4 separate regions of the Homo sapiens genome follow, and all the other regions are reported to be linked to region 1. The links are microRNA targets in miRTarBase. Many come from high-throughput screens and were not tested one by one. Region 1 holds a microRNA gene; each other region holds the end of a gene's coding sequence.

What was found. Region 1 holds the annotated microRNA hsa-miR-4804-3p (UGCUUAACCUUGCCCUCGAAA, at 1,108-1,128, shown strand). A microRNA usually pairs through its seed, bases 2 to 8, with sites in the 3' UTR of a target mRNA and lowers its output. Matches are read on the target gene's strand: a 7mer-m8 pairs with bases 2 to 8, a 7mer-A1 pairs with bases 2 to 7 and ends in A, and an 8mer does both.
Region 2: miRTarBase lists RPRD1A as a target of hsa-miR-4804-3p. Seed matches in the 3' UTR shown: 8mer at 1,785-1,792 and 7mer-m8 at 1,642-1,648.
Region 3: miRTarBase lists ZNF669 as a target of hsa-miR-4804-3p. The part of its 3' UTR that is shown has no 7-base or 8-base seed match.
Region 4: miRTarBase lists RREB1 as a target of hsa-miR-4804-3p. The part of its 3' UTR that is shown has no 7-base or 8-base seed match.

The regions. Positions count from the first base shown.
Region 1 is chr5:72,877,528-72,880,711 of GRCh38, forward strand. MIR4804 (microRNA 4804) reads left to right here and starts at 1,064; the gene lies at 1,064-1,136. All of the region lies in intron 9 of TNPO1 (transportin 1), which reads left to right. It also overlaps the pseudogene RPL35AP13.
Region 2 is chr18:35,990,344-35,993,527 of GRCh38, forward strand. It overlaps RPRD1A (regulation of nuclear pre-mRNA domain containing 1A), which reads right to left. Exons shown (of 7, transcript NM_018170.5): 7 at 1-2,957. The coding sequence ends at 2,808. Among named protein-coding and RNA genes, the nearest start is that of RMP24, 19 kb to the left of the region's middle.
Region 3 is chr1:247,097,452-247,100,635 of GRCh38, forward strand. ZNF669 (zinc finger protein 669) reads right to left here. Exons shown (of 4, transcript NM_001142572.2): 4 at 2,511-3,184. The coding sequence ends at 2,923. Among named protein-coding and RNA genes, the nearest start is that of ZNF669, 5.3 kb to the right of the region's middle.
Region 4 is chr6:7,248,739-7,251,922 of GRCh38, forward strand. It overlaps RREB1 (ras responsive element binding protein 1), which reads left to right. Exons shown (of 13, transcript NM_001003699.4): 13 at 1-3,184. The coding sequence ends at 230. Among named protein-coding and RNA genes, the nearest start is that of SSR1, 63 kb to the right of the region's middle.

The sequences.
Region 1 (3,184 bases):
TATGTGAGTATGGTTTGTTCTAAATTATAATTGATTTCGGATAATTTACAGCACAGTATTTTTGTGGGGTTTTTTTGTTTTTTGTTTTGTTTTGTTTTTAAAAAACAATCCTTGTTATTTAACCACAGACTCTATTGTGAAGTTTTGTTTTTTTTCCAAAAAATAATTTCCCACTAGTTGTGATGCAACAGAATTTAGTTAACTTAATGTTAAGCCCATTTTTCTAAAAGTAAAGTAATATAAGCTCGTGGGAAAAAACTAAATTGCAGAAAATTTTATATTTTCCGCATTTTCACCACCCTGAGTAATCACTGGTAGTATTTTTTATGTCATCTTTTAATGTTCTTTTCTGTGAAAGTACCGTATACTAAATAGCATGTATTCAGGGGGTTTGAGAAGGAATTTGATTTAATAATATATAATACATTAACATGACATCTTGCCTATAGTTAGTGCTTAAAATTTTAAATATACTATTTAATGGTTTGTTCTTTTCAGTTATTGTATGCTGTGTGCTTTCCTCCATGTCATTAGTCTTTAAAACTTCAGTGGAGGTATGCTATTCCATCATGGTATACATAACCATATTTACATAAATGACGATTATATATGTGTACGCTATAGAGAGAGAGAGAGAGACTGTTCTCTGCCATTGAATATTTAGGTTGTTTTGGCTTTTTTTCCCCTCATAAATAATCCTGGAGTGAATATCTTTCTTTGTCAATAAAAGGTTGTTTCTTTTTGTTATAATTACTAGGAGTGATTTTTTTCCTCAAAGTATATGAGCATTTTAATGTTTTTTCACAATATTCCAAATAGTTCTCTAGGAAATTTATAGAACCGTATACCCCACTGTGTGTCTATTCTGTCACAACTTTGCCAGCCATGAATTTTAATTTCTCAAATCTTAGCCATCTGGATAAGCAAAAAAAAAAAAAGTTTTTAATATGTCTTCATAGTAAAGGGTTTTTTTTTTTCCCCAGATGTTTATGGTACTTGAATGTTCCTATTTTCATATGGTCAACTGAGTTTTTTCTTTCCATCAAGAAAGCAACGATTCCAGTCAGTGTATTTGGACGGTAAGGTTAAGCAAGGTGCGTCGTATCTTGCTTAACCTTGCCCTCGAAATACACTGACTGGATTTTTTTCTCTTTAGGAAATCTATTAATTGTTCTTCCTTTTCTCTTTACTTTGTAATGCCACTTTAATGATACGTTTGAGTTTCTGTGGGGTCATATAATTTTAAATGTCATAGATACTAATTTTTATAAAAACTGCAGAGATTTTCTTTTTTTCTTCAAGAGCAGAAATCCGCTTTTATTTATTGACTTTTCGTTAGTTTAAATCCTTGAGGGGTACAGCATCACTCAGATTTTGTGTCCAATGGTCTCAGCAGGAAGATTGCTTTGAAATTTGGCACGAACCATGCCACTGTTTCCATGGGCCCAGATTACTCTGGCTTTGTTTAGTTTGCCGCCAGGAGTCTCTGTGTTGTTCTTTGTTTTATGTACATAAGCACATCTCTTGCCCAAAGAGAATTCTGTTTCACCTCATGCGTCAACATCTTCAATTTTAACAAGAGCTGTGTGTTTCCTTTGGTTCTGGAGACCCTGCTTTTAGCCAGCAGAAAAGGCCTTGGGCCACAGCCTTCCAGACATACTTCCTTTTAGAAGTCCTATTCCCAGCAGGCTGCAGTTATTTGCCCCCAAATTTCAGCAGCAGCTGCTTCACTCCAGAGATTTTATTAATGAAAACCTAGGCTATAACATAAACCTATGCTATAACAAACCTATGCTAATGAAAACCTAGGCTATAACATTAGAGATGATGTTAAAAATATGGAATTATAACTAGGTACTCTAACTCTATTACTGCACTAATATAATCCAAATATTCGTAAACCAAGCAGGAAATTAAAAGATTAGCACCACCCATTTTGCTGTGCTAATTAGTGCCAACATTAAACAACTCAAGCCAGTCATGACTGAGTTTTACTTATGTCTTCCCTACTACTGTGAGAGGCGGTCTCACTGTATTGCCCAAGCTGGTCTTGATCCTCTTGCCTCAAGCAATTCATACTGCTTGGCCTCCCAAAACTTTGGGATTACAGCCATGGGCCACGGTACCCAGTGGGAGCCACTTTTATATATAAAACGCAGCTGTTTTTATTGTTTTAGATAATGTATTGACAGGATAGCAGAATATCAACATCAATCTGATGCTGAGATTAAAAAGCACAGTGAAATAACTTGTTTTTCCTATTTATTAACCACACTTGCCTAGTATAATACGAGCAAAAAGTGTTTGCATAGGAATTAAAATTGTGTGTGTTACAAGATCACTCATAAATATAAACTCATTTAGAAAGCACCATTGTAGGCTGGGCACAGTGACTCATGCCTGTAACCTCAGCACTTTGGGAGCCTGAGGCAGGCAGATCGCTTGAGCTCAGGAGTTCAAGACCAGCCTGGACAACATGGTGAAACCCGTCTCTACCAAAAATACAAAAATTAGCTGGGCGTGGCAGCACATGCCTGTAATTCCAGCTACTTGTGTGGCTGAGGCAGGAGAGTCACTTGAACCCAGGAGGCAGAGACTGCAGTGAGCTATGAGCCGAAATGGCACCACTGCACTCCAGCCTAGGCAACAGAGTGAGACCCTTTCTCAGAAAAAAAAAGCACCAGTGTAACAAGGAGGATATTAAGTTCTATTATCATTCTGGGCTATATAGTCTCCCTTTTTTTATTTTTTTAACTAGTACTATTTTTATTATTGAACATTAATGTATTTTGTGATCTGGTATAGCAGCTCTTGATTTCTCTCGTTTTTACAAAATTGTTTTGGCTTTTTCCCACCTTTATTCTTGTACATTAATGTCTTATAGGGCTGTTGTGTGGATTTTCCATGTGAAACAACCCAATGCTCAGCCCATATTTAAGTATTCAGTAAACGTTTATTGTCTATGTTATTACTTTATGTGATGTTGCATTAAAAAACTCATTTTTGACTGGGTGCAGTGGCTTATGCCTGTAATCCCAGCACTTTGGGAGTCCAAGGCGGGTGTATCACCTGAGGTCTAGAGTTCAAGACCAGCTTGGCCAACATGGTGAAACCCCATCTCTACTAAAAATATAAAAAATTAGCCAGGCATGGTGGCGTATGCTTGTAGTCCCAGCTACTTGGG
Region 2 (3,184 bases), not on the chromosome of region 1:
AAATCAAGATGCCTGGGTCATCCCCACTTTTGCTGATTCTGAAAGATTTCTTATAGAAAAACCCTGATTCAGAGTGCATGTGATAGGAGATACCAAAATAGCTGCATCTGGACAGGGAGGTTGGCTATTGAGCACAGCTGATTCTCAGATTCCTGGTTCCCCTCTATGGTCCTTTTACTTACTGTAGTGATGGAAGGAGAGAAGGAGCGCCCGAGAATCTGTTCAGATTGTGACTCCAGACAGCTCTCTGCACTGTATGTGGAGAAAAGAGTGATGGCATCCATTCAAACCATAGCAGCCCTACGGCACCATGCTTTTCTCTTGAGGGGTCAGACCAAACTGCACTCAAAGATGCATGATCTGCCTCAGGTGCACAGTGGAGAAAACGCTCATGATTTACAATTTGGTATTATAATACCCCCAACTAATCCCATTTCTTGAGAAAATGAAGTCTTCCTTTTAGGAAGAATGTTTGCTGCTAAGGCTTACCATGTTAATTATCACACGGCTGAAAAGATGACTTCTAAATCAGACTGTATTGTCTGTGTTCAGTTAATACGTTAACCAACAACTGAAGTTTGTGGAGGATTGGTCGAGGGGTGGGATTCAGGTTTTTGAGTACTATCACTTATCACAAATCTCATCAAGCTCTTTAAAAAAATAATGCATTTTTATCATAAATATTTAGAGCAGATACTGGCATTAAAATCAGTATCTAAGTCAGAAGTCTGTCTGAAATGGTGAAAATATTTCAACAAACTTCTAAAAGATTTCAAATCTTCCCAGGAGTACATAGTTTATAAATTAGTTTTAAATGGAAAAAAATATATATTTTGAATGGATAAATCACCACTTTAGCAGATCATAAATAAGGTCAAGATATTGAAAATAAGTTAACATACAAGTTTTTGCTTTCACATTAATAATAAAAACTAACTTACTTAGTATACTTTCATAACATGTACAACCAGGTTTCATAATTGTGCATCTGTCACCTCCCCACTTGGCTGAATCTTTTTCTTCCATTTCCTACACCTAGGGACAGAGGTACACAGACATCCCAGGGTGTGAGTGTGGCTGCTGCATGCTGTGTCCTAGTTAGAGCAGTGTTACAAATGCTGGTCAGGATCTATGATTAGTAACCTGTGAACCACGTTACAAGTGAAGGACATTCATGGTTAGGTGGATTCAGTTCCCAGGTGAGCTATCAGCGGTAGTGTTAGGGAACCTAACTACTATTCTTTCTGTGAGAAAATGCACCCCAAGTCCCAAAAGTTGACTAAAAACTTTGGAATAAGCCATGTATTATTAGTAGTGCATGGATGAGCACTACTTATATGTGTCTCTGTTTTGGAGAGAGGTCAAATTGTTAAAAGAACTATTTGCAGAACTACTTGGCTATTAAAAATAAATGTCTGCCTTCTTCATATGCAATTCATTGTAACTATAATTTCTAATACTGAGAAAGAAACAATGAAGCCATTCAGACTAGAGAGACATAATTGGCTTGTGGGATTTTCAAGATGTTTTATTGACTATCTAATTTGAATCTACTTACAAAGAGAAGAAAAATGTCTAGTATGTAAAGCAATGAATGAAAATAAATGTTTATCCTAAGTCATTATTGAGTACAAATCCACAGCTTAACAATGTGTTTTTAACAGCAGGAGAGCATGCAACTGCTCTAACACACAGGGTCAGAAATAAAAGGTAAAAGTACATTTGTTTTGTAACTGTAAATATACAAATATAAAATTTACCATATCTACCCTGTAGTGTGGCACTGCTTAACTGCCAAATATACAGTCATTCAAAAACCTTAAGGAAACATTGAAAATGTCTCAGGCTACTTTACTGAACATTAACGAATATTGTGTTCTTGAGCTATTAGAGCTAAAAGTATTATTTTTAAAGTTATATGAGCAAGGGAATAATAAAAGTATCATTTCACGTGTCTTTTAATCCCATAGACGGCTTTTTGTTAAAGGGATTAATTATGTTAAAAGGAAACTGATTTGACAAATAGAAACCAGTTCCAGAACCAAAGTTGTCCTCTTGGTAGAATGTCAAAATGTATATTATTTCCAAAGTATTTTCATTATTAATCTACTCAAATAATTACAAACAGTTTAATCAAGGGAGTCACTATTTAACACTTTTAAAATCTACACTGGCAGTTGGAATGGAACTTTTACAATGCTATTAAGGAACAGTTCTCTAGACTTTCATCTGCCCCTCAAAGTGACATCCCTGTTTTATGTTAAATTACCGACCTCTAAGGAATCAAAGGCATGTAGAGACACAGAATTGATATTTTGTTTGGGGAGAAGGGTAAAGATTATGTTGGAACATTTAGTCCCTTCTACAATCAAGTCCTAACTATACCATAATAAAGTCTCAATCAACTCCTAATTAGTTCTTCCCCTTCAGGAATTACATAGTATACAGTGATTAAATGCTGAAGAAAATAAAGAAAAACAATTGAAAATACCTGAAGAAATACAAACAAGAGATTTCTCACAAGGCCTTGGATCAAAAAAAAAATTTACAAAAAGATCTTTTGAAAATAATCACTATTTGTGAGCTTATTAATACACACAAATCATCACTTTGTTCAAATTAAGTCATGTTAATTTACCAATAAAATAGTAAACAAACCAACATTTTAAACAATTTTATAAATTACTCGTTGTTCCTTTTGTTAGTGTTTCTTTCTCAACAATATACAAAAATAACACTACAGGACTATCCACCTAACCTGTCTCCATCTCTTGCAAAGTCCTGGGACCTGGAAAGAGGCTGGTCCATCAATCTTCACTGTAGATGTCTCCCGCAAAGGGCAGGTGCATGTGGCTGCCAGTGACATTGGGCAATCGAGATAAGTCTGGCAGGCTCTGGATCCGGGACCTGAGTTCTTTGCGCACCAGGGAAACTCTGGCTAGCTTGCGCTTGTACTCCTGTAACATCAAACCACTTTCATTAGCATTCAGGGATTGAAAAAACTTCCTAGCTAATAATGACCTACATAAACCCAGGTACTATATATACTCAGTTAATGCCATATTTAAAAAGGTTATTCCAGTGTGAGTTTTCACATCAAAAGATGAGCTTTGGAAATATATAACTAGTAAACTATTATTATTAAGAAAAACCACAATCTTTAGCTGTTGCTTCACACCAGTAG
Region 3 (3,184 bases), not on the chromosome of region 1:
CCTGCATGAGGGCTGCTCCATTCCATTTGTGTTGCCAATTGTTTCAATAGCGTCTCATGCACCCCATTGGTGAGGAAGGAATTAGCACCCTATGTCTACTGGTACCGTTAAACACATGACATCTATTACTAAACAGATAAACTAAACATCAGTTATTAATTACATACAGGAGGATGGTGTAAGCTCCCACAGGCCCAAACAGGGATTAACTTGGGAGCAGAGAGTGGTACAGCATTAAAAAAGTGAGGATGTTCCTTTGTTCCTACAGGAGTATGTGATTGGTTTGTCTGTTGGCTGGTAGGGAACTGAATCATGTGACACTGACTGGTAAGACTGTAATACTGTAAAATACACAAACTATAATACCGTAACGGTGTAATACTATATACAATACCAAAGGCATTGATGAAAAACCCAACGCTATCACATGTGACTGTGAGACTGAATGCTTCCTCCCTCAGACTGGTTACAACATATTGTCCTATCACAGTTCTCTCTCCTTCATTCAAAGTGAACTATGCAAATAACAGACAGAAATAATAAAGAATAAAGGGCAACAAATGCAAAGAACTCACGAGATGATACTCTATGATAAACTTTATGTACTTAGGAATTAATACCAACTCATTATTAGCAAAAAATAAACATCTTTACACCAAGAGTAGTTTTTCCTTTAATAAAAAAAGGTGGAATGTGTATAATGGACAAGGGATAACCAAAATTTGCCAAGTGAGGCTAGTAAGAAAATCGCAACAATTAGCAATCATTACTCACTGGTCCATTAATCACAGAACAATACATACAAATTAAACTTACTCCGCTGGGCACAGTGGCTCATGCCTGTAATCCCAGCACTTTGGGAGGCTGAGGGGGGGCAAATCATGAGGTCAGGAGTTCAAGACCAGCCTAGCCAACATGGTGAAACCCTGTCTCTACTAAAAATACAAAAAATTAGCTGGACATAGTGGTGGGCGCCTGTAATCCCAGCTACTCGGGAGGCTGAGGCAGGAGAATTGCTTAAACCCAGGAGGCAGAGGTTGCAGTGAGCCAAGACCGCACCACTGCACTCCAGCCTGGGCAACAGAGTGAGACTCCATCTCAAAAAAATAATAATAAAATAAAAAAATTAAACTTACCTACATATTAGAAAAACATCAAAATTCAACCATGAATCCAGCACATTATCAAATGAACAGACAAAAATTCTACCAACAAACTGAAGAAAGTATCATTACTATGAAATTCAAGTACTGCTTAAAAAGCATTTACAGAACTCTCACCTCAAGGTTTTCCTGCAAAATAAAGTGAAATGCATACTCAAGACTCTTTAAGAATGAGCCACTGATGAAAACAATATACTTGCAACTTGTGTAACATTTCATACATGTACATTTTTTTCAAGCACCGCACGATAATTAATTTGCATCAGGCTTTCCAAATTAGAAAAACTTCACTTATAGAACTTCTTTCCAGTGGGAGTTTTCACGACTTTTCAAATAAATGTTAAAACTGAAAATATTCTTGCAGTTTCTAAATATTAGTTGTAATCCTGTGTACATTTTTGTATTTACAAGGTCCAGCTGCAGTGTGCATTTTCACATGTCCTTGAGCAGATATGAGAGAAATGAAAACATTCCCACATTCTGGACATTCATAGGGTTTTTCTCAGGAATGAGTTGATGTCTTCAAACGGAACTAAAACAACTGAAGGCCTTAACACAAATTTAAATTTAAAAGGCTCTTCTCCACTCTGAGTCCTCCCAAATCTTCAAAATAGGAAAATCTGAAGGCTTGACCACATTTCCTACATTCTTAAGGTTTTCTGAAGTGTGAGCTCTTTCATGTTTATGAGGGAATGGGAAAGAGTAAATGCTTTACCACATTTCTTACACGCATAAGGCCTTTTTTTTGAGACGGAGTCTCACTCTGTTGCCAGGCTGGAGTGCAGTGGCACAATTTCAGCTCACTGCAACCTCTGCCTCCTGGGTTCAAGTGATTCTCCTGCCTCAGCCTCCTGAGTAGCTGGGACTACAGACACCCGCCAACACACCCAGCTAATTTTTGTATTTTTAGTAGAGACAGGGTTTCACCATGTTGGCCAGGATGGTCTCGATCTCTTGACCTTGTGATCCACCCACCTCGGCCTCCCAAAGTGCTGGGATTACAGGCGTGAGCCACCATGCCCAGCCGCATAGGGCTTTTTTGAGATGGAGTCTCACTCTGTCACCAGGCTGGAGTGCAGTGGTGCCATCTCAGCTAACTGCAACCTCCAACTCCCCGGTTCAAACGATTCTCCTGCCTCAGCCTCCTGAGTAGCTGGGATTACAAGCATATGCCACCACACCCAGCTAATTTTTGTGTTTTTAGTAGAGACGAGGTTTCACCATGTTGGCCAGGATGGTCTCAATCTCCCGACCTCGTGATCTGCATGCACAGGGCTTCCCCGCCTGCTGCGCACGGCTTTTCATGTCCTTGAAAAACAACTAAGACAACTGCAATGTGCCACCATGCCCAGCTAATTATTTTTTTATTTTATTTTATCTTATTTTTTGAGACAGAGTCTCACTCTGTCACCCAGGCTGAAGTGCAGTGGTGCGATCTCGGCTCACTGCAAGTTCCGCCTCCCGGGTTCATGCCATTCTCCTGCCTCAGCCTCCCGAGTAACTGGGACCACAGGCGTCTGCCACCACGCCCAGCTAATTTTTTGTATTTTTAGTAGAGACGGGGTTTCACCGTGTTGGCCAGGATGGTCTCGATCTCCTGACCTCGTGATCCACCCGCCTCGGCCTCCCAAAGTGCTGGGATTACAGGCGTAAGCCACCGTGCCCGGCATTATTTTATTTTTTGTAAAGACAGGGTTTCACCATGTTGCCCAGGTTGTTTCACATTGTTTTAATCCAGGCTGGTTATGAACTCCTGGGCTCAAGCAATCCACACGCCTTGGCCTCCCAAAGTGCTGGGATTATAGGCTGAGTCACTACACCCAGCCTCTATATCATGACTTCTTTCATGGCGAGTAAGGTGACTGGAACGAGTGTAGGCTTTACCGCATTTCTTACATTCATAGGGTTTTTCTCCAGTATGAATTCTTTCGTGGAGGTGAAGGGAACTGAGGCGACTGAAGGCTTGATCACATTGTTTACATTCATAGGGTTTCTCTCCGGTATGAGTACTTCTATGGTTA
Region 4 (3,184 bases), not on the chromosome of region 1:
TGGCTGTCACCCGGAGCCGGAAGGAGGGCTTGGCCAGTGCCACCAAGGACTGCAGCCACAGGGAGGAGAAGGTCACGGCAGGGTGGCCGTCTGAGCCTGGCCAGGGTGACCTTAACCCAGAGAGCCCGGCGGCCCTGGGGCAGGACCTGCTGGAGCCGCGCAGCAAGAGGCCTGCCCACCCAATCCTGGCCACAGCTGATGGCGCCTCCCAGCTCGTGGGGATGGAGTGACAGCCTCAGTCCCCCTCAGCACAGACAAAAGCCAGCAGAGCAAAGCGTCTATACTTCATGGGGTTTCCTCAGTGCCCTTTGGCTGTTGAGGAGTGAGAGAGAGAGAGAGAGAGAGAGAGAGAGAGAGAGAGAGAGACAAGCAGGAGCGTGGCTGCTCGCTCAGTGCCATAGCCTTACCGCAGCCTGCGCGGGAGGCCACAGCCCGTGCCGATTCCAGTGCCTTAACTACTTACCGGATCCCTCCATATTATCATGGGTGTTGTATTTTTCCAAAATGACTTCTTAAACAAAACAAATATTATAATGAATTGTCTGGAGAGGACCTCTTCATTTGAGCATTAGCGTTATTTTGTATTGGTGTGTGTGAGCTTGTTCTTGTGAATCTGTGATAGCACCGTTTGTTCTGTGAGCTGGAAACAGAAGGAAAAAACATACCCTTGGGTACCCATAGCCAATAACTGGAAGAAAATGATGTGAATTTCATGTAAATGACCAGAGGAAAGATGGATAAGATGATAATTTCTTAAATAGACATTTTCCTTTTTTCTTTGTGCTTCATGGTGGAGCTGTCATCTGGTCCTTGGTATTACAGGATGTGGTTGATGAAGGTTTCCAATATGGTTTCAGGCCAAAACCAGGGAAGATTCTAGCTTCAGCCTCATGTCCATTTCCAGTCTGTCAGCATTAGACATGGTCACTGTTCAAGTTTCAAGACATCCATTCTTAACTATAGAGAAGAGTTACTCCCCTGGCGTCTTAACCTATGGAAAACATGCACGGATAGGATATATTTGATTGCCTCCTCTTCCCTTTCAGTATATGTATTATTAATATTATTATTATTATTATTATTATTAGTTCATCAGTTTGCTGTTCTCTGCAGTGAGCAGAATCAAATGGGCAATATTTGTCCTGGGAGACCTGTGCCGCACCCAGGTCCCCGTGTTAACGTGTGCCTGCGGTTGTGGTTGGCACCCTCGGGTGGTAGCTCTTCTACTGTAATGAGACAAGCCTTTCTTCTGTCACTGCAGAATTTAGAAGGGGCCGTGAGCAGTCTTCCCAAGCATGGTCCAGGAGCAGCTCAGAGAGGGTGGAGTGAGGATGCATGCATCCAGGGAACAGGCATCAAGAAGCCAGGGCCGTGCCTGGAGCACTGCAGAGATGACTTTGGAGAAAGCAAAGCAGTGACCCAGTGACCAGGCACATTACTCGTGAGCGAGGTATTCCCAGTCTTCCTGCTAAGCCTAATCCAAGCCTTACCCAGCTGTGCTACTGTCATTTGCAAAGCAAGGAAATACTACTACTGGTAATAAAACTACACATGCAAGATGTCAGATAAGAAATAGGTTTATATTTACCTTCCTGCGATGTGGGGTTGGTGCTTGAAGATAAATGTGCTGTTTCTAGTTTCTTAAATAGCCCACACCCCTGGATGCAAAAAGGCAGGGTTATTTTTACCCATGAGCATCCTGTGCAGGCAATAGACTTCCCTCACTGTCTCCGCCTGCAGGGAGGAGAATGTACCCCACTGCACCTGAGCTCCTGGTCCCTCAGCCAAGACCTCAGGGGTCCCCAGCCAGCCTGCTGCTGGGGACCCCTGTGCTTGCTGCAGTGTATGGAGCCTCTTGCCTTCCCCTGGGGAGGCACCCCTGTACCCCAGCTTCCTTCCCCTGGCCTTTTCTGGCCCCAGTGCTCCTCCTTTACATAGACTTGTTCACACAGAAACGTGCACGCCCCCTTTTCTCCGCCACTTCACCAGTTTCTGAAATCCAACCTCCCAGACTTCACAGGAAGATAGATATTCTTGAGATAATGAAAAGTGATATCTTCGCATACGAAAGGAAAAAAGGTTGAGGTATATATGATTTTTAACTGTATTAGGGGTGTATGAACCAGTTTAAAAACGAGGTTTTATTTACTGTAGAGATGAATGCAAATCAGAACCAATGATCCCTTGGCCTACTTAGTTAAAACCAGTTCATACATCCCTTAGGGTTTTTATTATTATTATTATTATTATTACAGTTGTTATTGTTGTTTTTGTTGTTATTATTATTTGGGGTTTCTTGTGTTTTTTCTTTGCGACTCTCCACACTAAACTTGCAATATTGTGGGGAGAAGCTGTGACTAAACTCTACGCTGCGGTGAGATGTAGCAGTAATCAGCTCCCAGCGACGTGTGTAGCTGGGGCTGCCGCTCGCAATAATCACTATTGATTTAAAGCTTTACTTAGCCTTGATCTGTACCCTCGTAGTCAATAAGGTCTTGCCACATTTTATTAGTGAGGTGGAGAAACGTATTATTTGTTTGTTGTTTTTGCCCTTCCCCCACCCCCCAATATTAAACTGTGAAATTTGTGATTTGTTTAAACTCTGGGTGAATCATAGCTTAGTTTGCATGTCCAGCTAATTTGTTTCTATACATTTTGTTTGATTCTCTTTCTCCTTCTCTCAGGGCTTTTACAAAAAAATATATATATATGGATCTTCTGAAAAGTTTTTTGAGGTGCAAGTTTTTTCTCTTTTTTTTTTTTTTTTTTTTTTCTCATTGATTAATGGACATGATGCTGAGATTCAATCACTACATGAAACACCTGGCTGTGAAAACAAAACAACCCAGAGGGCTGTGTTCCAAGCAGCGCTGGGGAAGCTACGTAACAGTCGGATGCCAGTTTTGGAAGATTCACCATGCGTTCTGACCCTCTGTTCGTCTCTTTCCTCTCCTCTTTCTTCAAGAAGGAAATTGATCCTAGTGATTTCAGCCCATGCATTAAACAGGAAACAATAATAAATTTGTAGAATTCATATTTTTCTAAAGGGAACTTAAAAACTGCTGCTACATGTTATGTACAAAACTGGTTTATGCCACATGAACAGAGAATCACAAGTTTGGTTTTGGTACTTTTTGTTCCTCTTTGTATTCAGTTGTATAGAACTTCCAAATTCAGAATGAGA